2 separate regions of the Homo sapiens genome follow, and region 2 is linked to region 1. Evidence: fine-mapped expression QTL. A gene starts in region 1. The other region holds a variant in brackets. All regions are shown on one strand. Distances are between the middles of the regions.

The links.
Region 2: its variant is fine-mapped to the expression of CNOT10 in whole blood (TOPMed, PIP 0.93).

Annotation. Positions count from the first base shown.
Region 1 is chr3:32,678,075-32,693,724 of GRCh38, reverse strand. CNOT10 (CCR4-NOT transcription complex subunit 10) reads right to left here and starts at 8,537. Exons shown (of 19, transcript NM_015442.3): 1 at 8,243-8,537. The coding sequence starts at 8,264. RefSeq lists a silencer at 8,427-8,736.
Region 2 is chr3:32,765,843-32,781,492 of GRCh38, reverse strand. It overlaps CNOT10 (CCR4-NOT transcription complex subunit 10), which reads right to left. Exons shown (of 19, transcript NM_015442.3): 18 at 11,531-11,606; 19 at 7,618-8,036. The coding sequence ends at 7,882. Among named protein-coding and RNA genes, the nearest start is that of CNOT10-AS1, 36 kb to the right of the region's middle. RefSeq lists enhancers at 1-196, 133-212, 197-918, 919-1,639 and a silencer at 6,902-7,196. The variant T/C (reference allele first, on the strand shown) is at 7,768.

The DNA of each region.
Region 1 (15,650 bases):
ACAAAAAATACAAAAGTTAGCCAGGCGTGGTGGCGCATGCCTATAGTCCCAGCTACTTGGGAGGCTGAGGTGGGAGGATCGCTTGAGCCTGGGAAGTCAAGGATGCAGTGAGCAGTGTTCATGCCACTGCACTCCAGCCTGGGTGACAGAGTGAGACCCTGTCTGGAAAAAAAAAAAAAAAGACCAATATATTACTCTAAATTCTAATATTAAAAACACTTACTCACGCCTGTAATCCCAGCAATTTGGGCAGTCAAGGCAGGAGGCTTGCTTGAGTCCAGGAGTTTGAGACCAGCCCGGGATACATGGCAAAACCCTGTCTCTACAGAAAAACAGAAAAACTGGCCAGGTGTGGTGGCATGTACTTGTAGTCCCAGCTACTTGGGAGGTTGGGGTGGGAGGATCACTTGAATCCGGGAGGTCGAGGCTGCGGTGAGCCAAGATCATGCCCCTGTACTCCAGCCTGGGCAACAGAGTGAAAGCCTGCCTCAAAAAAATTAATTAAATTTAAAAAAGAAAAAAAACCACTTTAAATATCAAACATAGGTCACTACCACATCAACTCCTTGTTCTGAAAACTGGTAATTGAAAATAATGAATTAAGCTTTTAGCATTTAACATGGCTTTCTGGGAAGACTAACAGTCAATATGGGAAAGCTATTCTTTTTTGTTGTTGTTTCTGAGACAGGGTCTCACTTTGTAGCCCAGGCTAGAGTGCGGTGCTGTGATCACGGCTCACTGTAGCTTCGACTTCCTGGGCTCCAGTGACCTCCTACCTCAGCCTCCCAAGTAGCTGGGACTACAGGCACGCAGCAGCACACCAACTAAGTTTTTTCAATCTTTTCGTAGAGACAGGCTCTCATGTTGCCCAGGCTGCTCTTGAACTCCTGGGCTCAAGCGATCTGCCTACCTTGGCCTCCCAAAGTGCTGGGATTACAGGCATGAGTCACTGTACCCAGCCCAGGAGAGCTACTCTTTAAAGAAGAATATTCACTAACAAAGGTAGAAACTACAATAGAACTAGGTAAAAATCATTTTGTAACCCTCAATAATACAACTGATTGAGGAAAGAATCAACAACAGTGGATATTTACGAAATGCCAATTACTCCATAAATTACCTCTAACTGAAAATGGAAAAAGATGTTCCTGTCAGCACCTCAAATTGATCAAATTTAGCATCACTAATACTGGATAACCTGACATTATGTACTTTATACAGAAAATAAAGTATATAACATCACCTACAAAGTTTCTCAAAAATATGTTGAACCTATATCTAATCAAGCCTGTAGAAATAAGTTAGAGTTTAAGAAAATACAGGAGATAAAGCTGGGTGCAGTGGCTTACACCTGTAATCCCAGCACTTTGAGAGACCAAGCTGGGAGGATTCCTTCAGCCCAAGAGTTTGAGACCAGCCTGGGCAATATATTGGGACCCTGTGCCTACAAATAAATTTTTAAAATATAGCCATAGCTGGGACTACAGGCACATGCCACCACACCCAGCTAACTTTCTGTATTTTTTGTAGAGACAGGGTTTTACCATGGTGCCCAGGCTGGACTTGAACTCCTAGGTTCAAGCAATCCACCCACCTCGGCCTCCCAAAGTGCTAGGATTTATAGGTATGAACCACCATGCCTGGCGGGAAATTGGCTTTTTTTTTTTTTTTTTGGTGACAGGGTCTCACTCAGTCACCCAGGTTGGAGTGCAGTGGTGTTTATCTTGGCTCACTGCAACCTCTGCCTCCCAGGCTCAAATGATCCTCCCACCTCACCCTCCCTTGTAGGTGGGACTACAGGCATGCGCCACCACTAATTTTTTACATTTTTGGTAGAGACAGGGTTTCACCATGTTACCTACGCTGGTCTCTAACTCCTGAACTCAACTGATCCTCCCACCTCAGACTCCCAAAGTGCTGGGATTACAGGCGTGAGGCGCCATGCCTGGCTGGCAGGAAATTTTTAATATATTAAAACATGAATTGTCTAAACTATGACAATGGCATCATGGTTACATAGGTGAATGTCCCTATTTTTAAGAAACGCATGTTGAAATATTTAGAGATGAAGTGTTATGATGTTTATAACCTATTTTGAAATGATTCAACATTAAAAGTCATAGCTAGAGCCAGGTGTGTTGGCTCACATCGGCACTTTGGGAGGCCGAGGCGGGCAGATCACTTAAGCTCAGGAGTTCAAGACCAGCCGGGCCAACATGGTCAAACCACGTCTCTACTAAAAATACAAAAGTTAGCTGGGCATGGCCAGGCACAGTGGCTCACGTCTGTTAATCCCAGCACTTTGGGAGGTCGAGGTGGGTGGATCATGAGGTCAGAAGATCGAGACCATCCTGGCTAACACAGTGAAACCCCGTCTCTACTAAAAATACAAAAAATTAGCCAGGCATGGTGGCACACACCTGTAGTCCCAGCTACACAGGAGGCTGAGGCAGGAGAATCACTTGAACCCAGGAGACAGAGGTTGCACTGAGCCGAGATTGCACCACTGCACTCCAGCCTGGGCAACAGAGTGAGATTCCATCTCAAAAAAAAAAAAAAAAAAAAGCTGGCTGTGGTAGCGTGTGCCTGCAAGCCCAGCTACTCGGGAGGCTGAGGCAAGAGAATCGCTTGAACTCGGGAGATGGAGGTTGCAATGAGCAAAGATCGTACCACTGCAGTCCAGCCTGGGCAACAGAGTGAGACTCCATCTCAAAAAAAAAAAAAAAAGTCATAGCTAGTGATAGAGGAAGCAAATATGGTAAAATATAACAATTGCTGAATGAACTAGGGGGTAGATATATAGATATTCATTTTATTTTTTAAATTTTTTAGGTGTTTGAAATCATTCATAATAAAAAGTTGAAAAAATACCAAATAAGTCTGGGCGCGGTGGCTCATGCCTGTAATCCCAGCACTTTGGGAGGCCGAGGCGGGCGGATCATGAGGTCAGGAGTTAGAGACCAGCCTGGCCAACATGGTGAAACCCCTTCTCTACTAAAAATACAAAAAAACTAGCCGGGCATGGTGGCATGCACCTGTAGTCCTAGCCACTTGGGAGGCTGAGGCAGGAGAATGGTGTGAACCCGGGAGGCGGAGCTTGCAGTGAGCCAAGATCGCACCACTGCACTCCAGCCTGGGCAACAGAGCGAGACTCTGTCTCAAAAAAAAAAAAATTATCTGGATACAGTAGTACACACCCGTAGTCCTAACTACTCAAGAGGCTAAGGCAAGAGGATTGCTTAAGCCCAGGAGTTCATGGCTGCAGTGAGCTATGATGGTGCCACTGCACACCAACATGGGTGAAAGAGTGAGACCCTGTCTCAAAACAAAACAAAACAAAAAAACCAAAAAACTCAGAGCCTGAGATTATATCATTTAACCTGTTACCATACCTGTGAGGTAGATACTTTCATCGTTCTCATTCTACACGCAGGAAAGCTGAAGCTTAAAAAAAAGACTTCTTGAAATTTGCCCAATTTCCCACAAATACCAAGTAGTACAGCTAGGATGAACCTAAACTATCTGATTTCAAAGCCCCTACTCTTATCATTCCTTACCTGGATCAGTTAAATATAAATCAGATCACACCATCATGCCCTTATTGAAAACTTCCACTCTCTTCCCATTAGTTAAAATGAATTCAAACTCCCTCCATGGCCTGTAACGCCCAACATACACCAACTCCTGATACAACTGTGACTTTATCTCTTGCCATGCTGCCTTTGCTCCCTATGCTATAAATTATGTGTATTGGCTTTTTTGTTTTCTGTTTGAGACAGGGTCGCACTGTCACCCAGGCTACAGTACAGTGGCACAATTATAGCTCACTGCAACCTTCAACTCCTGGGCTCAAGCCATCCTCTCATCTCAGACTCTGGAGTAGCTAGGACTTCAGGGTCACGCCACCATGCCTAGCTAATTTTTTTTTATTTTTTACGGAGACAAGTCTGGCTATGTCGCCTAGGCTGGTCTTGAACTCCTGGCCTCAAGCGATTCTCCCACCTCAGCCTCCCACAGGTGTGAGCATCTATGCCCAGCCTTAAATTATGTGTTGAGTGTCTCTTGTCAGATATTGTTCTAGGGACTAGAGCTAGAACACAACTAACACAGACAAAAGTCTCTATCTTCGGGGAGCTTGTATTCAAGGGGTCTGCTTGATGTTCTTTAGACATTTTCCAAGCAAGGGTTCTGTACATTTGCATATTTGTTGCTCCTCTTACCTGGATCATTCTTCCCAACACAGCTGGCTCTTTATCCTTAGGGTTTCTGTCTAAATGTCAACTCTAAGAAAGCCCTTCTCTAATCTATCTGAAAAACAAGGCTTTCAGTCATCCTCTATTCTTTTTTTTCTTTTTCTTTTTTTTTTTTTTTGAGATGGTGTTTTGCTCTTGTTGCCCAGGCTGGAGGGCAATGGCACGATCTTGGCTCACTGCAACCTCTGCCACCTGGGTTCAAGTGATTCTCTTGCTTCAGCCTCCCGAGTAGCTGGGAATACAGGCGTCTGCCACCACGACCAGCTAATTTTTGTATTTTTAGTCAAGACAGGGTTTCAACATGTTGGCCAGCCTGGTCTCAAACTCCTGTCCTCAGGTGATCCACTCACCTCGGCCTCCCAAAGTCCTGGGATTACAGGTGGGAGCCACAGGCACCCGCCAGCAGGCCCTGCTAATTTTTTTGTATTTTTAGTAGAGACGGGGTATCACTGTGTTAGCCAGGATGGTCTCGATCTCTTGACCTCGTGATCTGCCACCTCGGCCTCCCAAAGTGCTGGGATTACAGGCGTGAGCCACCACGTCCGGCCTTTTATTTTATTTTTTTGAGAGAGGGTCTCATCCTGTTGCCTGGACAGTGGCGTGATCAAAGCTCACTGCAGCCTTGAACTCCTAGGTACAAGCAATCCTCCCACCTCAGCCTCCCTAGGAGCTGAGACTATAGGCACACACCATGATATCTGGCTTTTTATTTTTTAGAGTCAGGGTTTCACTTATGCTGCCCAGGCTGGTCTCAAACTCCTGGCCTCAGGCAATCCTCCCACTTCAGCCACCCAAAGTGCTAGGATTACAGGTGTGAGCAACTGCAGACAGCCTCTCTTACTCATTTTTTTCTTCTGAGTATTATTTTTTTTTTTGAGATGGAATCTCACTCTGTCACCCAGCCTGGAGTGCAGTGGTGCGATCTCGGGTTGCTGCAACCTCTGCCTCCCAGGTTCAAGCAATTCTCCTGCCTCAGCCTCCCAGCTAGCTGGGATTACAGGTGTGCGCCAGCATGCCTGGCTAATTTTTGTATTTTTAGTAGATGGGGTTTCACCATGTTGGTCAGGCTGGTTTTGAACTCCTGACCTCAGGTGATCCACCCCCCTCAGCCTCCCAAAATGCTGGGATTACAGGTGTGAGCCACTGCACTTGGCCTTCTTCAGAGTATCTATCACAACTTGAAATCATCTTATTTTTCATTTTATTTACATGCTTATCTGTCCTTCATAGTAAATAAGCTCCAGAACAGAGACTTTGTTTTGTTCCTGCCCAGTTCCTAAAGTAGTACCTGGCAAAACAGGCCATTGGTGAATATTTACTGAATAAATTAATATCACAACATTAACTCATCTTAGGTGGTCTCTAGGCTTCCTGTCTTACTTCATTTAAATCCACCACCTACAACAGTCAGTGTGATCAGATCACTCACCTTAAGTCCTTTCATGACCCTTTTTTCTTACCTGATGAAGAACACACACACAAGACCCTCCGTGACAAATATCCTGACCTCGTGAGCTCAGAGAGGAAGCAGCATGTAAGATAGACTGAATGAATAGTGTTCACCAGACGGAGAAGAGAAAGGACACTACGGCTCAAAAGCTCAAAAAACACAATGCTTTGCAACAGTAATTTATGATGTGAAGAGCTGGGTGGGTTGATACAGAAATCCAGCTGGAAATAGATTTTGAAGATGCTCACAAACCACATTAGAGTGAGGACGGCAGGGCGCGGTGGCTCACGCCTGTAATCCCAGCACTTTGGGAGGGCGAGGCAGGCGGATCACAAGGTCAGGAAATGGAGACCATCCTGGCTAACATGGTGAAACCCTGTCTCTACTAAAAAATACAAAAAAATTAGCAGGGCGTGGTGGCGGGCGCCTGTAGTCCCAGCTACTCGGGTGGCTGAGGCAGGAGAATGGCGTGAACCCGGGAGGCGGAGCTTGCAATGAGCCGATATCGCACCACTGCACTCCAGCCTGGGTGACAGAGCGAGACTCCGTCTCAAAAAAAAAAAAAAAAACAAAAAAAAAAAACCGTGAGGACTTAAAAGGAGAAAGAAAATACAATAAAAATTAAATAAAAAGAATGATGACTTGATGCCCAAAGCATGTACAGTCTTAGAAACTTTATAGGAAGGGGAATGACAGGATTCAATGAATGTCTTAGGACATAAAAAAAGCGGGGGGCGACAGTGAGGAAAATGGATGGGATAGGAAGAGACAAGAGACAAACACCAGTGAGAAGACTACTCAATGCGACATAGATCATATTAAAAGATAAAGGCCAGAAACACAGCAGATGAGATGGAGATGAGCAGAGATTCAAAGGAGCTACACTAAACACTCATCTATTTTATTCAAATTTAACCTTATATCAAAGCAGGAAGTTTCCTTCAATATGGCCTATAAACTTAAACCAATGAAAAAAACAGTCCCCTAATCACTGTGGACCTTATTCTTCAACTACACACATTACACAGCTCTTACCAAACAGGAGTGCAGCTAGGATATGCCTGTCTCCTCCAACAGACTGAACAGCAGGTCTTCAAAGGCAGGGAGTGTGTCATATCCATTATTCAACACTCAATCTTTGCGAATGAATAAATGAACAAGTAGAAGGCTTTATGACTGAGGATTTGAAAACTGGATGGGCTTTAGGTCTAAAAGGGTGATTTCGGGCAAGCGCAATGGTATGAGCAAGTAGGAATGGTAAATGTGGGGAACACAGACACTATTCTAAAATAAGGAGGAAGATGTTGGTCCCCTGGTCCAGCCTTGGACAGGCCATGCCGTTTTCCTGTCTAATAGTCTCTCCCTCATCCACCTTTCCTCATTTCTTATGGCTCATTCCCTCACTTCTTACATATCTCTGCTCAAATATCATCTCACCAGAGGCCTTCCCTGAACAACCTATCCAAAATTTCACAGCACATTCCTTATACCCTCTCAAGGCCTTTGTTCTGTTGTTTTTCTTCTTAGATTATTGAAGAGATCCTCTAATGATTTTTATTCCTCTGTACCTAAAATAGAATTGGCTTAATTTCCAAGTGAAGTTCATTTGTCAGTTATTGTGACCAGAACCTACTAAAATCCACAGCACACTGAGTTTTTCTTTAATTTTAAATTAAATTCACTGTAAAAATTTTAAGTTCCATCACTTTTAAATCCTGTCACTTAAGTTCTTTCCAATAAAACCTGGATGCCACAAAGAATATGAATTTCTTGCGGGAAACATTCCGGACAAGGTCAGGAAATAATTTTATATTCCTTAATGTGGAAGATTCTAGGAATGGGAGCAATAATCCATAAAGAAAACCATTGAGATTAAGTAATTTCGAGGAACTAGAGCAATTAAGTACCAAATGCAAGATTTTAGGAGCACAGACTGTAGAGAGACAATAGGATTTTATGCCTTTTTAAATAAGTGGTTTACTTTGAGAGGCCAAGGCGGAAGGATCGCTTGGGCCCAGAAGTTCGAGATCAGCCTGGGCACCATAGCGAGACCCCCGCCCGTCTCTATCAAGAAAAAAAAAAGTGGTTTTTACAAAGTTAATTTCACAGGAGTCAATGACCAGAGGAAGCCACATGTGGTCAAAACAGCCCAGGTGAATCCCAGCCTCAGCCACGCGATATTATAGGCAGATGTGTGCTCCAGGGTGACTTTCTCTTGTCTGCTTTTCCCACGAAGAAGCGGAAAATTCTGCGAAGCGGCAAAATACATTTAAGCTTTTTGGGCCGGAGTTATTCTGAAGAGCAGGGCAAAGGCGGCCAGTGGCGACTTCAAATACTGCACTTGAGTAAAACAACTATTGGACCCGGGGCCCGAAGACTCATGTTAGCGACAGCCGAGACAGAGGATGGGGTAAAGAAATGCACGCCCAAATTCAAGTCGCCCTGGAGTCCCCACCCCGGGCCCCGCCGCCTCCGAGTTCAGGGTCCGCCCGGCCCCGCACGTCCCGCCGTCTCGTCGCTCGGGACATTGGCGCCCTACCTGCAGGCTTGTCTGCAGCCATCTTCCCGCTTCGACTCGGGTTCTTCCCTGCAGGTGGCGTGGCCCTGACTCCCGCCGCCGGGCTGGCCGCTGTCCTGGACCTCCGAGGACAACTCTGTGCCTACCCCGGCTCCGGGCCCCCAGGTTCCGGCTAGAGGAGTGGGCAGACGGCGGGCTGAGGAAGTGACGAGAGCTAGTTCCCGTCGTCTAGCAACAGCAACAGCTTCCCCACCAAGGGACCGCCACAGCCTCCCGCCATACACAGCTTCCGCCTCACGGCGTCCCGGTACCCACTACTTCCGGGGGCGGCAGCCTGCCGCGCCTGGAGCGCCGGCGTGGGAACTGCTACTGGCCCCGCCCCACGCCGACGTCCCCTCCGCGCCCCGCCTCCGGCCGGACGTACTCTGGCTGGAACCTCTGGATGTTCACAGGGCTGACGCGGTGGGACGTACGCGCGTCTGTCCTTTGCTTACTCTAATTAAAACACCGAGGTGTCAGAGCTTTTGTCCCTCAATGTTACATAATATTACAATAACCACATCTGACATTTATGTGCTAAGCACTGAGCCCTGCACTTGGTCTGTACTATCTCATTGATTTCTTGCAACCCCATGAGAGAGGCGCTGTTGAGGATTCCCGTTTAAAAAGAAACGCCTTTTATTTTAGAATAGTTGTAGTTGTGCAGAAAAGTTGCAAAGATGACACCTAGAGTTCCTGTCTCCTCACCTAGTTTCTCCTATTGTGAACATCTTAATTATTTTACTATGTTACGTTGATCACATCTAAGAAACCAGTTTGATTGGCGCACTATTACTCACTAAACTACACATTTTATTCACATTTACCAGCTTTCTTTCAATGTCCTTTTTTTGTTGTTGTTCCAGGATCCTGTCCAGGACACCATATTGCATTTATTCATTATGTCGTCTTAGGCTATTTTTGGCTGTGGCAGTTTCTCAGATTCTTCTTGTTTTTGATGACCTTGACAGTTTTGAAGAGTTACTCCTCAGATATTTGGTGGAATGTGCCTCAATTTGGGTTTGGCCAATATTTTTCTCATGGTTAGACTGGGGTTTTGGGTGTTTAGGAGGAAGACCACAAGGTGACTGGCTGTTCTCATCACATAGAATCAAGGGTACATGCTGTCAAAATGACATCACTGATCATGTTAACCTTGATTACCTCTCTAAGGTAGTGCTTGCCAGTTTTCTCTACTGTGCAATTACTCCTCCTACCCTTCCACACTACTTTGGAACCAAGTCAATAAATGCAACCCACACTCAAGGTGGGAAGGCGGGGTATTTAAGCTCTACCTCCTGCAGTGGGGAGTATGTACATAAATTATCTTCCCCAAGGGAAGTTTGCCTCTTCTCCCTCACTTAGCTATTTATATCAGTATGGACTCATGGATGTTTATCTTATAATGGTTACATTCCAATACTACATTATTTTGTTGCTAAAATTGTCCCAGCTTTGTTAATTGGGAGATTTTTCAGGTTTGTACCTGTTTTTTTCTTTTTTTTTAACTTTTGTTTTAAACTTTCTTTTAAAAAAGTATTTGTTTTTGGCCGGGCGTGGTGGCTCACACCTGCAATCCCAGCACTTTGGGAGGCCAAGGCAAGTGGATCACTTGAGGTCAGGAGTTTGTGACCAGCCTGGCCAACATGGTGAAACCCCGTCTCTACTAAAAATACAAAAATTAGCTGGGCGTGGTGGTGTGCACCTGTAATCCCAGCTACTTGGGAGGCTCAGGCAGGAGAATCCCTTGAATCCGGGAGGCGGAGATTGCAGTGAGCCAAGATTGCCCCACTGCACTCCAGCCTGGGCAACAGAGTGAGACTCTGTCTCAAAAAAAAAAAAAAGTATTTGTTTTTTCTTAAACTTTTTAATTCAGGCTAACATACACAAAGAAAAGTGCATGAATCATAAGTACAGTGTATTGACTTTTCATCAACTCAACACATACATATAACTAGCACCCAGAGAAAGGGCAGAGCTTTACCCATATCTGGGAGTTCCCCTCATGCCTCTTCCCATCTCTCCACAAAGATAATCATTATGCTGACATTTAACACTATGGATTAGCTTCACCTGCTTTTAAACTTAATGTATATACATTATACAATATATTTTTTAGGGTCTAGCTTCTTTTGCTCGATAGTATGAGATTCATTGACATTGTTGAATGAAGTTGTATTTGTTTCTCATTGTTATATATTATAATGTTACATTATGTGAATATTCCTTAATTTATGTATTCATTTTATTGTTGGGCATTTGGATATTTTATCTATTTTGAATAGGGCCAATATGATTACTCTAGTATGACTTTTGATGAATATGTGCCCACCATAAAAAGGCATACCTGGCTGGGCAAAGGCATACCTGGCCGGGCACGGTGGCTAATGCCTGTAATCCCAGCACTTTGGGAGGCCGAGGCAGGCAGATTACCTGAGATCAGGAGTTTGAGATCAGCCTGGCCAACATGGTGAAACCCCGTCTCTACTAAAAAAAAATACAAAAATTAGCCGGGCGTTGTGGCGGGTGCCTGTAATCCCAGCTACTTGGCAGGCTGAGGCAGGAGAATTGTTTGAACCCGGGAGGCAGAGGTTGCAGTGAGCCGAGGTCGTGCCATTGCACTGCAGCCTGGCCAACAAGAGCAAAAGTCTATCTCAAAAATAAATAAATAAATAAATAAAATAAAGAATAAAAAATAATAAAAAGGCACACCTGAAGTGTAGTAGGGAGCCTCTTAATGAAAAGGAATTAGGAGGAATCTCTTATAGAATTTGGGCTTATTCTAGAGGGATTGGGAAAGTAGGAGGCCAAATTTGAATTGGATGCTGTCAGGAAACAAGCAATTCAGTCTTGGTTTTATCTAAACAGAAGGAGGAACAAAGCAAGCTAGAGCTGTCATTGGTTAAAAAAAAAGCGGGATCATTTACATTAGAAGAAGGGGGTGTTTTCCCATTTGTGTGGTTGTTGAGGGCCTTGTTTCTGTCTTGTCCAAAACACGATCATGGTGAAACTGTCTATGAACATTGTTCATATTCTGTGAGTGCTGTTTATGTCCAGTTGGGAACATTCTACTAACAGAACTGTTTTTTTTTTTTTAATTTTCTTAGTCCCCTTTTCACTTTCTCACATGTGGTCACATCTATGTTGGTTCTTGTCCCCCATTTCATAGATAGGGAAACTGAGGCACAGATGTTAATCCACTTTCCCAAGCCACAAGACTGGTAAATGGCTATTATCTTAACCACTACATTCTAGATTCTAGGATTTGCTATTATATTGAAGATATTTGGGCTCTCTTCCCTCTACTTTCCGTATCAGCAGCTCTCCCTTTTTTCACAATCAGGCTGACATCAATGATGGATAACTAATTCAGGAGTGGGGAGGTGGAAAAGCTCAGTAGGATTTTGCTCCGTCATAAACTACGGTGAGTCACTTTACCTCCAGCTAATAATGATACCACTATCCATTCACAGTACTTTAGACTGTATGTGGTTTGTTTGTTTGTGTCTGTGTTTTGAGACAGGTTTCACTCTGTTACCCAGGCTGCAGTGCAGTGGTATAATCATGGCTCACTCCAGCCTCTAACTCCCAGTTTCAGGTGATTCTCCCACCTTAGCCTCCCAAGTAGCTGGGACTACAGGTGCACGCCACCACACCTGACTAATTTTTTATATTTTTGTTATTTTTATTTTTATTATTATTTATTTATTTATTTATTTATTTTGAGATGGAATTTCTCTCTTGTCAACCAGGCTAGAGTGCAGTGATGCGATCTTGGCTCACTGCAACCTCCACCTCCCGGGTTCAAGCAATCTTCCTGCCTCAGCCTCCCAAGTAGCTGGGATTACAGGCGCAAGCCACCGTGCTTGGCTAATTTTTCTTTTTTTAGTTCACCACATTGGCCAGGCTGGTCTCGAACTCCTGACATCAGGTGAACCACCCGCCTCAGCCTCTCAAAGCGCTGGGATTACAGGCGTGAGCCACCTCGCCTGGCCTAATTTTTTGTATTTTTGGTAGAGACCGGGTTTTGCCATTTTTCCCAGGCTGTTCTCAAACTCCTGGACTCAAGGGATACACCCACCTCGGCCTCCCAAAATGTTGGGATTATAGGTGTTAGCCACAGTGCCTGGCCTATATGTGATTCTTACTGCTTGTGGAAGACTGCCTCCAGAGAATCATACAATATGTGACCTTTTACATCTAGCTTCTTGGTTGACAACTCTTACCATCCCAATACGCACATGCTGCTCCTCCCATCCATCAGGAGGTGGAGTCGAACCCAATGTATAGCATGGTGACTATAGTTAATAATAATGTATTGTAAGGTTGGGTGTGGTGATTCACACCTGTAATCTCAGCACTTTGGGAAGCTGATGCAGGTGGATCACTTGAGCCTAGGTGTTTGAGACCAGCCTGGGAAACATAGCGAAACCCTGTCTCTACAAAAAATACAAAAATTTGCCAGGTGTGGTGGCAGGCACCTGTCGTCCCAGCTACTCAGGAGGCTGAGGTGGGAGGATTGCTTGAGCCTAGGAGTTGGAGGTTGCACTCCAGCCTGGACAACAAAGCAATATCCTGTCTCAATAATAATAATAATCATGTATTGTATATGTGGAGTCTTCAAAAAGTTCATGGAAAATATGTATTATGAAAAAACTATGCATGAATTTCAAACTCTTTTTGCACCAAAATAAATTCATACTAACTTATTATAACATGTCAAAATAGGATCCAGTTTGAGGCACTAAGAAAGATAAGACATCAGTTTGAAAAGAGCCCCTTTCAGAGCAATATGAATTCTGCTAAAATTGAAGCAAGAACAAACACCACATTTCTGGTAAAGCTTGGATGGAAGAATGGTGAAATAATTTATCCTTTATAAAAGGTTTATAAAGAGAATGCCCCCCGCAAATCAGTAGTTTACAAATGCATAACTCGTTTTAAGAAGGGATGAGATGGCCAGGTGCAGTGGCTCATGCCTGTAATTCCAACACTTTGGGAGGCCGAGGTGGGTGGATCACTTGAGGTCAGGAGTTCAAGACCAGCCTGGCTAAAATGATGAAACCTTGACTCTACTGAAAAAATACAAAAATTAGCCAGGCGTGGTGGGGCGTGCCTGTAGTCTTAGCTACTCAGGAGGCTGAGGCAGGGGGATTACTTGAACCCAGGAGGTGAAGCCGCAGTGAGCCAAGATCGTGCCACTGAACTCCAGCCTGGGTGACACAGTGAGATTCCATCTCAAAAAAAAAAAAAAAAAAAAAAGAAGGGATGAGACAATGTTGAAGACAAAGTGCAAAGTGGCAGATCATCCACATCAATTTTCAAGGAAAAAAATCTATCTTGGTTTGTGCCCTAATTGAGTAAGACAGACGATTAACAGCAGAAAAAATAGCCAATACCATAGACATCTCAATTGGTTCAGCTTACACAAGTCTGACTAAAAAATTAAAGTTGAGCAAAATTTCCATTAAATAGTTACTCAAACAGTTGCACCCTGATCAACTGTAGACAAGCAAAGGTTTCAATGGAAATTTTAAACAAATGGGATCAAAATTCTTAAGCATTTCTTCTAGGAATTGTAACAGAAGATGAAACATGGCTTTACCAGTACAATTTTGTAGACAAAGCATAATCAAAGCAATGACTACCAAGAGGTTGGAGGGGTCCAGTCAAAGCAAAAGCACACCAATCAAGATCAAAGATCGTGGCAACAGTTACTGGGGATGTTCAACTCATTTTGCTTGTTGACTTTCTGGAGGGCCAAAGAATAATAACATCTGCTTATTATGAGAGTGTTTTAAGAAAGTTAGCCAAAGTTTTAGGAAAAAAAGAAAAGAATTCCGGGTGCGGTGGCTCACGCCTGTAATCCCACCACTTTGGGAGGCTGAGGTGGGCAGATCACGAGGTCAAGAGAGCAAGACCATCCTGGCCAACATGGTGAAACTCTGTCTCTACTAAAAAATACAAAAATTAGCTGGGTGTGGTGGCATGTGCCTGTAGTCCCAGCTACTTGGGAGGTTGAGGCAGGAGAATCACTTGAACTAGGGCGGCAGAGATTGCAGTGAGCCAAGATCACACCACTGCACTCCAGCCTGGCGACAGAGTGAGACTCTGTCCCAAAACAAAACAAAACAAAAAACAAAAAAACTGAAAAGAAAAGAAACAAAACCACACAGGAAAGCTTTACTAGAGAGACTTTCTCCACCACAACAATGCTCCTGTTCATTCCTCTCATCAAACCAGGGCAATTTTTTGAGAGTTTCAGTGGGAAATCATTAGGCATCCACCTTACAGTCATGATTTGGCTTCTTCTGACTTTTTTTTTTCTAACCTTAAGGCTAAGGCAGGCAGATCACTAAAGAACTGAGGGGCCTGGGGATTTAACCATGTCAATGCATGTCTTTTTTTCATTGTTAGCTGAATAAAATGGGTGCCCTTTAAGATTTTTTTTTTTTTAATGGAGTCTCCCTCTGTTGCCCAGGCTGGAGTGCAGGGGCATGATCTCAGCTCACTGCAACCTCCACTTTCCAGGTTCAAGCCATTCTCATGCCTCAGCCTCCTGAGTAGCTGAGATTGCAGGCGTGCGCCACCACACTGGGCTAATTTTTGTATTTTTAGTAGAGAGAGGGTTTCACCAAGTTGCCCAAGCTAGTCTCAAACTCCTTACCTCAAGTGATCTGGTATCATCATTTATAAGTGTCTTGAACTCAATGAAGTTTATGTTAAGAAATGAAGTTTATCTTTTTAATTCTATTTTTCCATGAACTTTTTTTTTTTTTTTGAGACAAAGTTTCACTATTGTCACCCAGGCCGGAGTGGACTGGCTCAATCTCGGCTCACTGCAACCTACGCCTCCTGGGTTCAAGTGATTCTCCTGCCTCAGCCTCCCAAGTAGCTGGGATTACAGGCGCCCACCACCAAGTCCAGCTAATTTTTTGTATTTTTAGTACAGACGGGGTTTCACTATGTTGGCCACGTTGGTCTCAAACTCTTGACCTCAGGTGATCCACCCGCCTTGGCCTCCCAAAGTGCTGGGATTACAGGCGTGAGCCACTGCGCCTGGCCCAAACATCAATTTTCTAAGTGACCCATTTAGGCTCACTGCAACCTCTGCCTCCTGGGTTCAAGTGATTCTCCTGCCTCAGCCTCCCAAGTAGCTGGGACTACAGGCGCCCGCCACCACGGCCGGCTTATTTTTTGTATTTTTAGTGGAGACGGGGTTTCACTATGTTGGCCAGGATGGTCTCAATCTCTTGACCTCGTGATCTGCCTGCCTCGGCCTCCCAAAGTGCTGGGATTACAGGCGTGAGCCACCGCGCCTGGCCCATGTTATTCTTTTAAACTGCTGAGTTTGAAGATGCTTTGTTGTGCAGCAACAGGTAACTGAAAC
Region 2 (15,650 bases), 88 kb before region 1:
CTTCCGTAAAACGTGCATGAAATACCCTTACCCCTTCGGCCCCGCCACCTGCGGTCGCTTGGATGCCACTGAAGACGAACCACGTAATGGGTAGTTTGGAGCCCCTAGTGTCACGCCAAACACAGCGTGTTCGCCACAGGACATAAATGTGACGCTGTAGTGGGGCATGGCTCAGCCAACGCCGTGCCCTTCCTCGCTGGAACAGAGGTTGTTCCAGATACAACTCTCTTTGTCAAGTGTCTCAAGTATGGAGTAAAAAATGTTCACCTGCCCGGCTCCCCAGGGGAAAGGCTATCCATTCAGAAAGTAGCTATTTGTGGCTTTAACCGGGATGAAATAAATGACGGCAGAGGACGTTTGAAGGCGGCCCCGGCCCGAGGACAGAAGTCCCCGGCCAGCCGTGCTGGGGTGGGGGAGGGCCGAGGGTGGGGACGGGGATCTGGGGCCGCTCACATGCAAATGCGCCGGGACAATCCGGCCGGGCGCCTCTGCGCCTCCGGGAGGCCGAGGCAGGAACAAAGCATTAGCATTTTCTACATGTGAAAGGCCTGCATTCCTGGGCGGGGAGGCCCCCGGGGCGCCGCCCCCCTCTTCCCATTCACACTCGGGACCACACAGAGCGCCTCTCGCGCCAAAAGCTCCGAGGTTCGTTTCAGCTTTTCTTTTCATCCGAGCGATGCATACGAAATGTAGATATTTCCCTAAACGCCGGCTTTGACATTTAATGCGATCCTAAGTAGTCTGAAATGTGGACGGGATTAGGAGGAGGCTGGGGGCCCACAGGGACACTTGGCCAAATCCCCCTAAATCCTCCAGGACAATTGTTTGTCACCACACGGATTCCTATTGCCCCAAATGAGGGGGCTAATGAACTTCGCTGCCTCCTCCCGTCGCAGCCCCACTCCCACCCTGGAGCCTGCATTTCTGCCCAGTCCTTTCTAGGAAGAAAGGGAAGATGAATTTTTAAATTGCAAGTTTTCTGCATGGGTTTGGTTACTTTAGTCCAGGCCAAGTTGACTTGGAGGATTGACTTTGACCAGTAACTAACCCACCCGTCCCGGGCTACTATTTAACTCTCACTCCATAAAGGCGCAGAGGTCAAGGATGCTGAGGCCCTGTGAATCTTGGGCTTATGTTAATAGGCCTTCACCACCTTGAAAGAAGTAGGCCCTGGGTGTCGTTGCCAGGCCTAGAAAGGACATGTCACCAAAAATTCTGTTTAGCAGGCTTTATTGTTCACCTAGAACAATCCACACACTGTATAATGCACAGCCTGTCTTCAAAGGTACTTACAATCCAGTAGGGGAAAGAAAATGGTCAACAAAGAACACGTCATGAAAGACATGCGCTTGCAGATTTGCCTAGTTACTATGGGGCTGAAACAAAAAAGCTTCTGGGACCAGAGCATGCCCTCAGTAAGCATGTGTGAAATGAAGAGTGGGGGCATAAGAGGAAATCCCTTGGAGGAGGATAGGGCTATGGAGAGGCAGTGTGGGATGCCCAGGATGTTGACACATTAAAACTGGAAGGGAGAAAATTTTAGGCAGCAGAAGAGACTGAAGCAAAGCTCTGAGGGTAGGAAATGGTGACTCCTTTTAGGGGATGGCAGAGAATCCAGTGGTGGAACAAATGGGGCATAAGGGAGGGATTAATAGTAGCTAAACTGGGTGTGGTGGCTCATGCCTGTAATTCCAGCACTTTGGGAGGTGGGAGGATCACTTGAGGCCACGAGTTTGAGACCAGCCTGGGCAACATAGTGAGACATTGTCTCTGCTTTAAAAAAAGAAAAAGGCTAAGTAGGAAGGGCAGAAAGAGACCTTCAGGTATCCCTGAAGCAACCCCTAGGCAGGAGCCAGAGCTGTGCTATAGGAAGTTACAGGCTGTGGTGAGGAAGAAAGGGTGGGAGAAGGAATCTGAGGCAAGGAGACCGGGTACCTCTTGTCATCACAAGATGAGGTCCTGGGCAAGGCAGGAAAGAATAGGATGAGAACACAGGATGCCACTAGGTGTTGAGCAAATCAAAAGTGAAGGAGGACTGGGTGCAGTGGTTTGCACTTGTAGTCCCAGCTACTAGGGAAACTGAGGTGGGAAGATCATTTGAACCCAGGAGTCTGAGGCCAGCCTGGACAACATAGTGAGACTCCGTCTCAGAAAAAAAGTGAAGGAGGTGGTAATTTATCTCAAGGAGTCCCCCTCCATTCCCCACTGTCCAGCCTCAGTGCTGTTATATAATCTTTGCTTTGATATCACTTTTACATGATACAGTGAAAATTATGGTGTTCCCTTTCAAACATTTGGGAGTTCAAGGCACATTCAGCAATGGTACAATGGCCGCACCCTTAAACATCATTCTAATCCTATGAATTAGTATCCCCATTTTACAGATGAAGAAACTCAGGCACAAAGAAGCAAAGCAACTTGTTTCATATCAAAATTGTTCCAGAGAGAGAACCAAGATTTGAAGCCAGTCGGGCTAGAGGGTCCATGATGTCATCAGTCACTTTTCTCCAGGTGGCTTCCAAGAACAGGGAGGAATGAGAGAGACTCAGAGGTAGCACTGAGATGAAGGAAGTACAGAGGGAGACTGGGCTGAGCAGGCCCTTTCGGTAACAAGAGGGATAAGTGAACTCACCTGTATTAAGTGTCCACCAGGCACACTTTGCATGCATCATCTCATTTTAATCCTCACACTAGGCCCTGAAGAAAAGCATTTTACAAACTGGTCAAAAAACCTCAAGAGAGATGAAGTCATTTGCTCAAAGTCACTTAGATTGAGTAAGGGCAGAGCTGTCAGAAAACTAGTCAGAAAGGGACTATGAGAGGTGACACTCTGATATGAAAGAGGAGGCGGAGGGTGCATAGTTTCCACATGCAGGCAGATGGCAGTGCATTGGGCAAGGCCATGCAAGGTTGCTGGCCTGTGTTCCAGTCAAGGGCATGGCTTTAACAGAGCTCTGCAGGAGGCTGTTAAGGGCCGGAGGGCACAAGGGAAGACTACTACAGCTGTTCTGAGGGTTCATGCCATGTGGTTTGGGAGACACTTGCAACAACATCCTCCTGGGTCCATGAAGAAATTCATGAGGTCGATTTTGTCCCGTATTGTAGATGATGCAGCTGAATGAGTGGTAGAGCTTCAATAGACCTAATGGCTCTCAGAATTCAAAACCCCAGCAAAGGCCAGGCACGGTGGCTGATGCCTGTAATCCCAGCACTTTGGGGGGCTGAGGCAGGTGGATAGCTTGAGCTCAGGAGTTTGAGATCAGCCTGGGCAACATAGCGAAAACCCGCTTCTACAAAAAATACAAAACTGGGCATGGTGGCTCTTGCCTGTAGTCCCAGCTACTCGGGAGACTGAGGTGGGAGGACCACTTGAGCCCAGGAGGTCCAGGTTGCACTGAGCCTTGATAGAGCCACTGCAACATTTGCCTGGGCAACAAAGCAAGACCATAGAACAACAACAACAACAAAACCCAAAAACCTAAAAACGTAAACCCCAGCAAATAAGTTGCCATATTTTGAGACTGATGCCTATGGTTCTCATATCTGCTAAATTCCAGAAAACCATATACCATAGAAGAAACTGTATTTACCAGGGAAGATACAAAGGGGGAAGAAACTGGGAACAACCAGGAAAAACTTTAGTAAGTGACATTTAAATCCTTTTTTTTTTTTTTTTTTAGACAAGAGTCTTGCCCTGTCACCCAGGCTGGAGTGTAGTGGCACGATCCTGGCTCACTGGAACCTCCATCTACCAGGTTCAAGTGCTTCTCCTGCCTCAGCCTCCCGAGTAGCTGGGATTACAGGCACCCGCCACCACGCCCAGTTAATTTTTATATTTTAGTAGAGACGGGGATTTCGCCATATTAGCCAGGTTGGTCTCGAACTCCTGACTTCAAATGATCCACCCGCCTTGGCCTCCCAGAGTGCTGGGATGACAGGCGTAAACCACCAAACATGGCCAAAAGCCTTTTTGTATAGATAGGGTTGTTACTAGAAAGGGGTCCCGATCTAGACTCCAAGAGAATTCAGAAAGACTTCAGCGTAAGTCTGTAAAGTGAAAGCAAGTTTATTAAGAAAGTAAAGGAATAAAGAATGGCTACTACACAGGCAGAACAGCCCTGAGAGCTGCTGGTTGCCCATTTTTATGGTTATTTCTTGATGATGTGCTAAACAATGGGTGGATTATTCATGTTTCCCCTTTTTAGACCATATAGAGTAACTTCCCAATGTTGCCATGGCATTTGTAAACTGTTATGGCGCTGGTGGGAGTGTAGCAGTGAGGATGTCACTCTCATCACCATCTTGGTTTTGGTGGGTCTTAGCTGGCTTCTTTACTGCAACCTGTTTTATCAGCAAGGTCTTTATGACCTGTATCTTGTGCTGCCCTATCTCATCCTGTGACTTAGAATGCCTTAAGCCTTAACCACATGGGAATGCAGCCCAGTAGCTTTCAGCCTTATTTTACCCAGCTCCCATTTAAGATGGAGTTGCTCTGGTTCAAACCCCTCTGACAGAGTTACCTCAGTTAGCAGAGGTGGCTTTAACAAAATGGGGCAGGAAAAATAGGTGGGAAGAAGCCTTCCTGGCTATGGGAACCAGTATGAGTCCAGACACAGAGGTGAAGAACTTATATTTAATTTGCTGGGCTCTGCTGACAGTAGGCAGTGGAAGGAAAAGCTGAGCTGCTGGAACATTAATCTGAAAAACACTGAATTGGCCTCCCTTAGGATGTGCAGGGCTATGCCAGCAACTGCAGCAGGCATGGTTATGACATCTTTGCCAGGCTTCCCTGCAGCTTAGGATGGCTCCATGACATGATGTGACAAAAGAGATGTTAAGCTCAAGGCTGCTGAGGTTTCTAAGAAAGTTTTGTTCCAGATAGTCTCCCATCAAGATTAGCTAGTTTTTGCCCTGTTTTTCTTGCCTTCAATGTTGATGTGATACTGGAATATCTTGTGACTATGGAAACAAATGCCCAAATGCTGAGGACAGTGGCATGGAAAAACAGAGCTGAGTCCTGGATGGCATCACGGGACACTAGAACCCAGGCCAGCAGCTGCCTTCATATCCCCTTCTCAAGTGAGAGAAAAATAATCTTTAAGTCACAGACCTATTTTTTGCTACTTGCAGCCAAATATAGTCTTATTTAATATAGGACCTGCCCTACCCTTACTAGGTATTGCCTGCTTTCCCATAAACAAACCAGCATGCAGAGAAAGTTCTAATTTCTTGATTTCTCTAAAGATGTGTTTTTTTGAAGTACAATTATAGGGCTTTTCCCCTTCATACTACCATGACTATGTGAGTTCCTAGCGATTTATGAAGTCTGTGGACTCACTCTCCAGAAAATTCCCAGGCAAAGCAATTCTGCTCATTTGAGTGGGTCTCACAGTACTGCTGTCGGTCTGGAGTATGGGAAAGCAGAGACGGCAGACTTAAACCAACAGCAGTGCAGATTACGGGTCCTATGGTCCTACTTAGAAGGGGCTTCAAGAGGTCCAAGGAAGCTAGGCTATCTCTGCTTTCTGTGTCCACCTGTAAAAATCTACTCTGTGTACAAAACAACTACAATGTGGCACTCGATCAATGGAGCCCCTACATCCATCCATCCATGTTTAAAAAGAGGAGGATATTCTCCCCTTCTTTGAGTCTGTTGGCAATGCCTATCTCAGTCACAAATATTCAGTTCTAGTATATATCATTACCTGAGTTCCGCTTCCTGTCAGCAACAGAATAATTCAGATAGGCTGGGCTCGATGGCTCACGCCTGTAATCCCAGCATGTTGGGAGGCTGAGGCGGGCGGATCACCTGAGGTCCGGAGTTCGAGACCAGCCTGACTAACGTGGAGAAACCCCCATCTCTACTAAAAATACAAAATTAGCCAGACATGGTGGCGCATGCCTGTAATCCCAGCTACTCTGGAGGCTGAGGCAGGAGAATCACTTGAATCTGGGAGGCGGAGGTTGCGATGAGCCGAGATCGTGCCATTGTACTTCAGCCTGGGCAACAAGAGCAAAACTCCGTCTCAAAAAAAAAAAAACGGCCAGGTGCAGTGGCTCACACCTGTAATCCTAGCACTTTGGGAGGCTGAGGCGGGTGGATCACAAGGTCAGGAGTTCCAGACCAGCCTGACCAACATGGTGAAACCCCATCTCCACTAAAAATACAACAATTAGCCAGGCGTGGTGGCGGGCACCTGAAATCCCAGCTACTCAGGAGGGTGAGGCAGGAGAATCACTTGAACTCAGGAGGCAGAGGTTGCAGTGAGCCGAGATTGTGCCACTGCACTCCAGCCTGGGAGACAGAGCAAGACTCCGTCTCAAAGGAAAAAAAAAAAGAATAATTCAGATAAAGTTTCAGATAAATCAGTACTTATCCACACACTTGTCTCTCTAGTTCTGAAACTGAGGTAACATGTAGATTCAGCTAATGTGTCTCCAAACTAGGGAAGTGAAGCATTGTGACGTTAAGGGATATTCCTAAATGGCAAGCTTTGATGAATCTACCAAACACCATCTTAACTAGGGGGACACCCAATTTACTAGAGCAAATCCACATTGTCTTTTGTTTGTTTGAGACAGGGTCTCACTCTGTCACTTAGGCTGGAGTGCAGTGGTGCCATCATAGCTCACTGCAGTCTTGAATTCCTAGGCTCAAACAATCCTCCCACCTCAGCCTCCAGAATAGTTAGGACTACTGGCATGGGCCACCATGTCCAGCTTTTAAAAATGTTTCAGAGACAGAGTCTTGCTATGTTGCTCAGGCTGGTCTTGAACTCCTCAAGTGATCCTCCCGCCTTGGTCTCCCAAAACATTGGGATTACAGATGTGAGCCACTGCACCCACTTGTATTGTTTTTTCCCCCTACTTAATGTTAGTGTATATACATCCTATTGGCAAATTTTGTCAACGTCAATCCCACAACACATAACTGTCTCTTGGGAAGAAGCTATTAAATTCTTGTTTGCATTTGCAAAAGGGTTAGTAATGAACCTTGAACTGCCTGCCAGCAGACTCCAGAACCTAGGAGAGTGAACAAGGCCAGTACACTGAACCCTGTTGTATTTGCACTTTTTAAGCAAATGATTCCTAACAGATCAGTTGTGTCTTCTTTTTTGAGGCAGTCTTGTTCTGTCGCCCAGGCTGGAGTGCAATGGTGCAATCTCGGCTAACCGCAACCTCGACCTCCTAGGTTCAAGCGATTCTCCTGCCTCAGCCTCCTGAGTAGCTGGGACTACAGGTGTGTGCCACCATGCTTGGCTAATTTTTGTATTTTTAGTAGAGACGGGGTTTCACCATGTTGGCCAGGCTGGTCTCAAACTCCTGACCTCAAGTGATCTGCCCACCTCAGCCTCCCAAAGTGCTGGGATTATAGGGATGAGCCACTGTGCCTGGCCCAGTTGTATCTTCTTAACCTACTTTCTCAACACATTTTCTGGTCTTTTCAGTCATAACTAGACATAAAACACGTCAACTCTCTTTCCCTCCCCTTCACCCCCAGGTCAGCTTCTGAACTGGCTATTTCATCTACTGCTGATGTTCTTTGTCAATTTTTGAACGTTAACACAAAACCTCAGATGCTAAAATAATCTAATAGTCAATAAAAGTGTAAAAGACTTCTGATAAAATTATGTTTTAATTGCCTATGGCATATATTACATAATGGCTCAAAATTAATAGTCTGGCTGAAATTAAGAAAAACAGCTGATGATGACTTAGTAAATCCTTAATTTTAAGTAAGCTTTTGGCCAAATGTCAGGGGTAGAA[T/C]TGACTCAAAATTAACAGCCTTCACCATCTTTTATTCATTCTGCTGTGATACAACTAAAATGGCCAGTAAATTCTCCCCTGGGTCTCAGGTAACAGTTTTCCAAAAGTGAAGTATCACTTTCTCTGCACAGTGGTGAAAGCCGGCATTTGGATGGGCTGGATCGGGTGGACAGGCTGAAACACTGGCTTCTTTCTCACTTCAGAGTGTGTTTTCACTGCAGGGAGCAGCTGATTCCTTTTGATGATCTGTAAGGCCAGCTGAGTATTACCTATAAAAACACTTCCCGTTAAAAAACAAAGCACAGAACAATACTGCCACACACAAAGCAAGACATGAAAATCCTGCTGGGGAGGTAAAAGATGATCTAGAAGAGCTGTCATCTGCAGCCTTGGCTGTATACTGGAATCCCATAAAGCCTCCATCTTATCCCCAGAAATTCTGATTTAAGCGATGTAGGGCATGGCCCAGGCAATGGAATTTTAAAAAGCTTCCCAGTGATTCTAAGGTATAGCCCAGGTAGAGAACTTGTTATAGGTGGGCTGTATAAAAGAAACAATCATCTGGGAGGGTTGGTTCATGCCTGTAACCCTAGTACTTTGGGAGGCCAAGGTGGGCAGATCGCCTGAGCTCAGGAGTTCGAGACCAGCTTGGGTACCATGGTGAAACCCCGTCTCTACAAAAAAATACAAAAATTAGCTGGGCATGGTGGTGCATGCCTGTAGTCCCAGCTACTTGGGGGGCTGAGGCAGGAGGGCTGCTTGAACCTGGGAGGTCAAGGCTGCAGTGAGCCAAGATCACGCCACTACATTCCAGCCTGGGTGACAAAGTGAGACCCTGTCTCAAGACAAACAAAAAACAATGAAACAATCTAGGGCAATGCACTAACCCTAATCACATCTTTAAGGAGGCTAAGGCCCGCTGGGTGCCAGGCACTAAAGACCCCTTCTTCAGCTATTAAAAAAAAGGGAGCCTTGTAAGAGTTCCCAAGGTCAACAAGGAGTTATGCCTTAGAACATTGGGTTTTTTTTGAGACAGAGTCTTGTTCTGTGGCCCAGGCTAGAGTGCAGTGGGGCGATTACGGCTCACTGCAACCTCCATCTCCCAGATTCAAGCAATTCTCCTGCCTCAGCCTCCAGAGTAGCTGGGATTACGGGCATGAGCTACTGTGCCCAGCCTTTTTAAAATTTTTTATTTTTTAAAAAAGAGACAGGGTCTCACTATATTGCCCAGGCTGGAGTGCAGTGACTGTTCACAGGAGCAATACTGCACACTATAGCCTTGAACTCTTGGCCTTAAGCAATCCTCCCGCCTCAGCCTCCAGAGTAGCTAGGACTCCATGCTTGGCTGTGACTTCATTTATGTCCCTTTTTTTTTTTGAGACGGAGTCTCGCTCTGTCGTTCAGACTGGAGTGCAGTGGCACGATCTCGGCTCAGTGCAACCTCCGCCTCCGGATTCAAGCAATTCTCCTGCCTCAGCCTGCTGAGTAGCTGGAACTACAACTGTATGCCAACACGCCCAGCTAATTTTGTGTATTTTTAGTAGAGACAGGGTTTCACCATGTTAGCCAGGATGGTCTCGATCTCCTGACCTCATGATCTGCCCGCCTCGGCCTCCCAAAGTGTTGGGATTACATGCATGAGCCACCGCACCTGGCCTATTTCTGTCCCTTCTAATCTCTCTCATTCATGTCTCTTTTCTACTTCATGCTATCTCATATTTAGAGCCAACAGCCTTTCTTCTAGTGAGATACATCTTGGAGATCGTATATGCCCTAGAGGCATGACCTGAATTTATGTTTGAATAAATAATTCTCAGCAAGAACTGGCTTACTGTAAAACTTGTTAATATGTGTTCAAAATACTATGGTGTATAACTCAAAGCAACTGCATTCTAACTCATGTTCTCAGTCATTTAGCTGCCTAGGAGAAAGGTTAATTAATAGTGATTAATTATAATTAAGTGTCTGAAGTTATGATTCTGTATTTTCTCAGATAAAAGGAGATAAGCTTAACTTGTAAGGAGTATTTGTAGGATACCAAAAACTCCCTAACTATATCTATCAATTTATCTATTTATCTATCTATCTATCTAGATAGATATAGGTATTTATTATTATTATTATTTGAGACAGGGTTTCACTCTGTCGCCCAGATTGGAGTGCAGTGGTGTGTCTCGGCTCACTGCAACCTCCCACCTCCCAGGCTCAAGCGATTCTCCTGCTTCAGCCTCCTAAGTACCTGGATTACAGGCATGCGCCACCACGCCTGGCTAATTTTTGTATTTTCAGTAAAGATGGGGTTTTACCATGTTGGCTAGGCTGGTTTCGAACTCCTGACCTCAAATGATCCACCCGTGTCGGCCTCCCAAAGTGCTGGGATTATAGGCGTGAGCCACTGTGCCCGGCCTATTATTATTTTTTTAGACAAGGTCTTATTCTGGCATGATCTCAGTTCACTGCAGCCTCAACCTCCAGGGCTCAAGTGATCCTCCAATCTCAGCCTTCCCAGTAGCTGGAACTACAGGCGCACACCACCACACCCAGCTAATTTTTGTATTTTTTGTAGAGATGGGGTTTTGCCATGTTGCCCAGGCTGGTCTTGAACTCCTGAACTCTGGTGATCAGCCCACCTCAGCCTCCCAAAGTGCTGGGATTATAGGCATGTGCCACTGCGCCCAGCTCCTAACTATATTTTTATGTAGAAGAATTTGATGGGTCGTCGCTCTGGCTCACGCCTATAATCCCAGCACTTTAAGAGGCCGAGGCAGGCAGATCACCTGAGGTCAGAAGTTCAAGACCAGCTTGGCCAACGTGGTGAACCCGGTCTCTACTAAAAATACAAAAATTAACCAGGCATGTTGGTGGGTGCCTGTAATCCCAGCTACTTGAGAGGCTGAGACAGGAGAATCTCTTGAACCTTGAACCCGGGAGGCGGAGGTTGCAGTGAGCTGAGATAGTGCCACTGCACTCCAGCCTGGGTGACAGAGCGAGACTCCATCTCAAAAAAGAAAAAAAAAAAAGAATTTGATGGGTCACCTATCTTCAAGGAAGGCAAATTTCTGACTCTGAAGAGAAAAAACAGACATTAAAAATCTCAGCCTTGCCGGGTGCGGTGGCTCACGCCTGTAATCCAAGCACTTTGGGAGGCCGAGGTGGGCAGATCATGAGGTCAGGAGATCGAGACCATCGTGGCCAACACGGTGAAACCCTGTCTCTACTAAAAATACACAAAATTAGGTGGGCGTGGTGGCGGGCGCCTGTAGTCCTAGCTACTCAGGAGGCTGAGGCAGGAGAATGGCATGAACCCGGGAGGCGGAACTTGCAGTGAGCCGAGATCGCGCCACTGCACTCCAGCCTGGGCTACAGAGCAAGACTCTGTCTCAAAAAAAAAAAAAAAAAAAAAAAAAATCTCAGCCTTGGCTGAGCATGGTGGCTTATGCTTGTCATCCCAGCTACTAGGGAGGGTAAGATGGGAGGACTGCTTGAGCCCATGAGTTTGAGAGCAGCCTGGGCAACAAAGCGAGACCACATCTCTAAAAAAAATTTAAAAAATTAGTTGGGCTCAGTGGCGTGCACCTGTAGTCCCAGCTACCTGGAAGGCTGAGGTGGGAAGGCTGCTTGAGCCTAGGAGTTTGGAGGCTGCAGTGAGCTCTGATGGTACCACTGCACTCCAGCCTGGGCAACACAGTGAGACCCTGTCTCCCAACCAAAAAATCTCAGGCTCTTTCAAGGGATAAAGTCCTAAACAGAGAGAATTACTCACCATTCTGCAGTTCAAGGTAGACTGCCAGCAAGATGGCCTCAGGGGGCACCTCTTTAGGATGGATCATTGAAGCCGCCTTTGCTCAAAACAGAAAGATGCCCGTGAAAAAACAAAAGCTTAAGATACACACTCCAAGTACATCTGCCAACCAACAAGGTAACAAACTTATTCAAGCTCATTCCCACGTGACTTCCTAGGGACTACCTGTTGTTCTGCTCTGATGAGCCTCAGTTCCTTTTGTCTTAAAACCTAACAATTAAGCTAGACATGTAATACTCTGGGTTTTGAGATGGGTGACTGGACACCCCGATACTACAGTCAACCATCCAATTCTGCTGGTGGCTTTCACAACAGACACATACAGTTGCAATTACATCAAAATCTGCATGCCCATTTGTTTTCCTAAGTAACACTTCAGTATTACAAACTGTAAGTTGTCAATGTCAGGAATAATAATTCAAACTTATAGTAATACAGAAAAAACGTACCACGTAGCATGTTTGAGGTCTCCATTCTTAAGGACTGAAACACACTTCAATTTAGTCCAATAAAATAATTTACTAGTTTAGGCAACATGCTGCCCTTAGATCTGAGTAAGAGCCATAGCATCGGCCAGCAGTTTCTCTCTGATCCAGTCCTGAAGAAGGAAGCCTGGACTGCTCTGGACAGAAGTGCTGAAATTACAGGTTTATTTCCTCAGTCTGGGCCTCTTTGAGCTACAGCCAAAATATTCCTCACCTTATTATCAACTTGTACTTCCCCATCTAGTTTTAGTTGCTCATTGCTTCCAGACAGCTCTGCCTCTTCTCTTAATCTAATCAGATAATAGACTTCTACAAATACTTATTGAACAGAGGTGGGTATGGAGATAAGACAGGGACTTCCCCTGATAACAAACAAGCATGCAAATAACTAACAATAATCCAAACACAGTTACGTAAATGCCAGGGAGAAAGGCAGTGAATGTGCTGTGAATATGGAGAGAAAGGAAGAAGTTTCTTTCAAACAGAGCTTTGGGGTAAGGGAGGCCTGCTTTAGTCCTTGCAGGGTAGATATCTCACAGGTAGAAAATGGGGAGAAATGGTACTGAAGGTAGCAGCTTGAACGTGGGAGATGTTGGGGAAGACCAGAAACGTGTACTAGGTTGGTTTCTGGCAGCATTAGGAGAAATCTCAGACTAGCGGGGCATGTTGCCCAGAGCATGTGCTTCTAAGAAGTTCCTCATGAATGAGGTGGGGAGGCTTTTATTCCTCTCGCCACAACACTGAGGTATAACAACTCTTTTCAGAAAATGAGATTTTATATATCTAAGCCTAGCTTTCTAGGCAAGCTGTATAGGCAAGATCGTCTTTATACCATTTTGTGGATTTTTTTTTTTTGAGACGGAGTTTTGCTCTTGTTGCCCAGGCTGGAGTGCAATTGCACGATCTAGGCTCACTGCAACCTCCGCCTCCTGGGTTCAAGCGATTCTTCTGCCTCAGCCTCCCAAGTAGCTGGGATTACAGGCTCCTGCCACCACGCCCAGCTAATTTCTTGTATTTTTAGTATAGACGGGGTTTCATCATGTTGTCCAGGCTAGTCTTGAACTCCTCACCTCAGATGATCCACCCGCCTTGGCCTCCCAAAGTGCTGGGATTACAGATGTGAGCCACTGTGCCCGGCCCATTTTGTGGATAGTAAAATCTCTGTTTTCCATCCAAGTGGCTAGTAACACATTTTATTTACTGTTTTTTTCAATGACCACAGTCTGAAGCTTTTTTTAAAATACAAGAATTCAAGGCAACATCTTTATGATACTTAATGGCATTTTGCTTACTGGCTGTTCAGAATGGTTAGTGGTGGGCAGGCAACCTTGGAAACATCTACTCGGAGCCCTTTCCAACTCTTCACATCACTGTTCTTCCCTCCCAGGCAGGGTGGGCCTCCCAATTAACAAAGGTCCAGCCATTGGATTAACCTAAAAACCAAGGGACCAAAACAAAACCCCCTTCAGACCCCAAACCAGGCCTGACCCCATCTGTCTCTCCCAGCGTGGCAGCAGCCATGGCCACCTGCTGTACGAGAACCTCAGCTGGACTGTACACACTGTAACTTTAGATCAAAAGCTCTGTTTGCTGCAGTGACTGAGGTCTGGGGGCACTTTGAGAGGGGCTGCTCAACACCCTAGCCTTGTTACTGAGAAGAGTGAAACATTTTAACTCTTACTGGTTTAACTCATACACTCAATGCCTAGATAATATCAAACATGTTACCCTGGACAGCCTGTCACTTAACTTTTCTGATCTGGGATCAGAAATGCTGACCAGATGCCACTAAGTTGACTAAATAGAATTTGTAGTTATTTTTCACATGGTAAAGCATCATCACTTCTAGGCACAACAAGGCTGCTCACATAAGCAGGAACCTATGTGAAAGCCACATAGGCTTTTTTTTTTTTTTTTTTGAGACAGAGTTTCGCTCTTGTTGCCCAGGCTGTAGTGCAATGGCGCGATCTCGGCTCACCACAACCTCCACCTCCTGCGTTCAAGCAATTATCCTGCCTCAGCCTCCCGAGTATCTGGGGTTACAGGCATGTGCTACCACGCCCAGCTACTTTTTGCATTTTTAGTAGAGATAGGATTTCTCCATGTTGGTAAGGCTGGTCTCGAACTCCTGACCTCAGGTGATCTGCCTGCCTCGGCCTCCCAAAGTGTTGGGATTACAGGTGTGAGCCACTGCGCCCGGCTGAAAGCCACCCTATCTCCTGAGAAGAGGTTTAATATCAACTTTAGTTGCTGTGGCAAGCATGTGGGGATGTGGGCCTTCTCATCTGCTGCTGGAGAATGTACCATTTGATACAAACTTTCTATATCAGAAGTCTTAAAATCCTGCATATCCTCTGACCATGCAATTCCCTTTTTAGGAAGGTGTCTCCTAACTGCAAAGGTCTACAAGCAAGGGCAAGATTGTAGTATGTCTGCTTATGTGCAGTCTTATTCCCATGGCTTAGCTCAGAAGTAAGTGCTCAACAGATATCTGCTGGATGAATGTCCTTTTGAGGAACTATTTCTAATTTTGTGAGATTCCTCTGGGGCTGCCAATGGTGGTACCCAGTCCCCTACTACAGGTATGGCTCAATGCCCATGATTGGTCCAGGGATTGGCAGGTGACCTACTAAAGAGATCCAATCAAAATCTTCCTTGAAGCTTCATGATGCACCATTTCAGTGGTAGAATTCAGAGGTTTATTTTAGTTATATATTGCCAGTAGCTTTCTTTAGTGTGTATGGAGTTTCTCTAGTATTGGCTTTCTGAAAGGTGGATTTATAATTCACTTTTTTTTTTTTTTTTTGAGACAGAGTCCCGCTCTGTTGCCCGGGCTGGAGTGCAGTGGCGCGATCTTGGCTCACTGCAAGCTCCACCTCCCGGGTTCATGCCATTCTCCTGCCTCAGCCGCCCGAGTAGCTGGGACTACAGGCACATGCCACCACGCCTGGCTAATTTTTTTGTATTTTTAGTAGAGACAGGGTTTCACCGTGTTAGCCAGGATGGTCTTGATCTCCTGACCTCATGATCCGCCCACCTCGGCCTCCCAAAGTGCTGGGATTACAGGCATGAGCCACCGTGCCTGGCCTATAATTCACATTTTGAAAAAAGATTTACACAATTCAAAATTTAAAAGCACCTGGGCACGGTGGCTCACACCTGTAATCCCAGCACTTTGGGAGGCTGAGGCGGGTGGATCACCTGAGGCCAGGAGTTCGAGACCAGCCTCAACATGGAGAAACCCCGTCTCTATTAAAAATACAAAATTAGCCGGGCGTGGTGGTACATGCCTGTAATCCCAGCTACTTGGGAGGCTGACGCAGGAGAAGTGTTTGAACCCGGGAGGCGGAGGTTGCAGTGAGCCGAGATTGCGCCATTGCACTCCAGTCTGGGCAACAAGAGCGAAACTCCGTCTCAAAAAAAAAAAAAAAAAAATTAAAAGCATAACAGTATACAGTGAAAAGTCTCCCATTCTACTGCTCCAGCCATGTAGTATTCGTCCTGCCACCCCAACAACTAATGTTTGCAGTTTCTTGGTGTGTCCTTTCAGAGATCTTTTATGCATGTATACAGGGTTATACAGAAACTGTTTCACA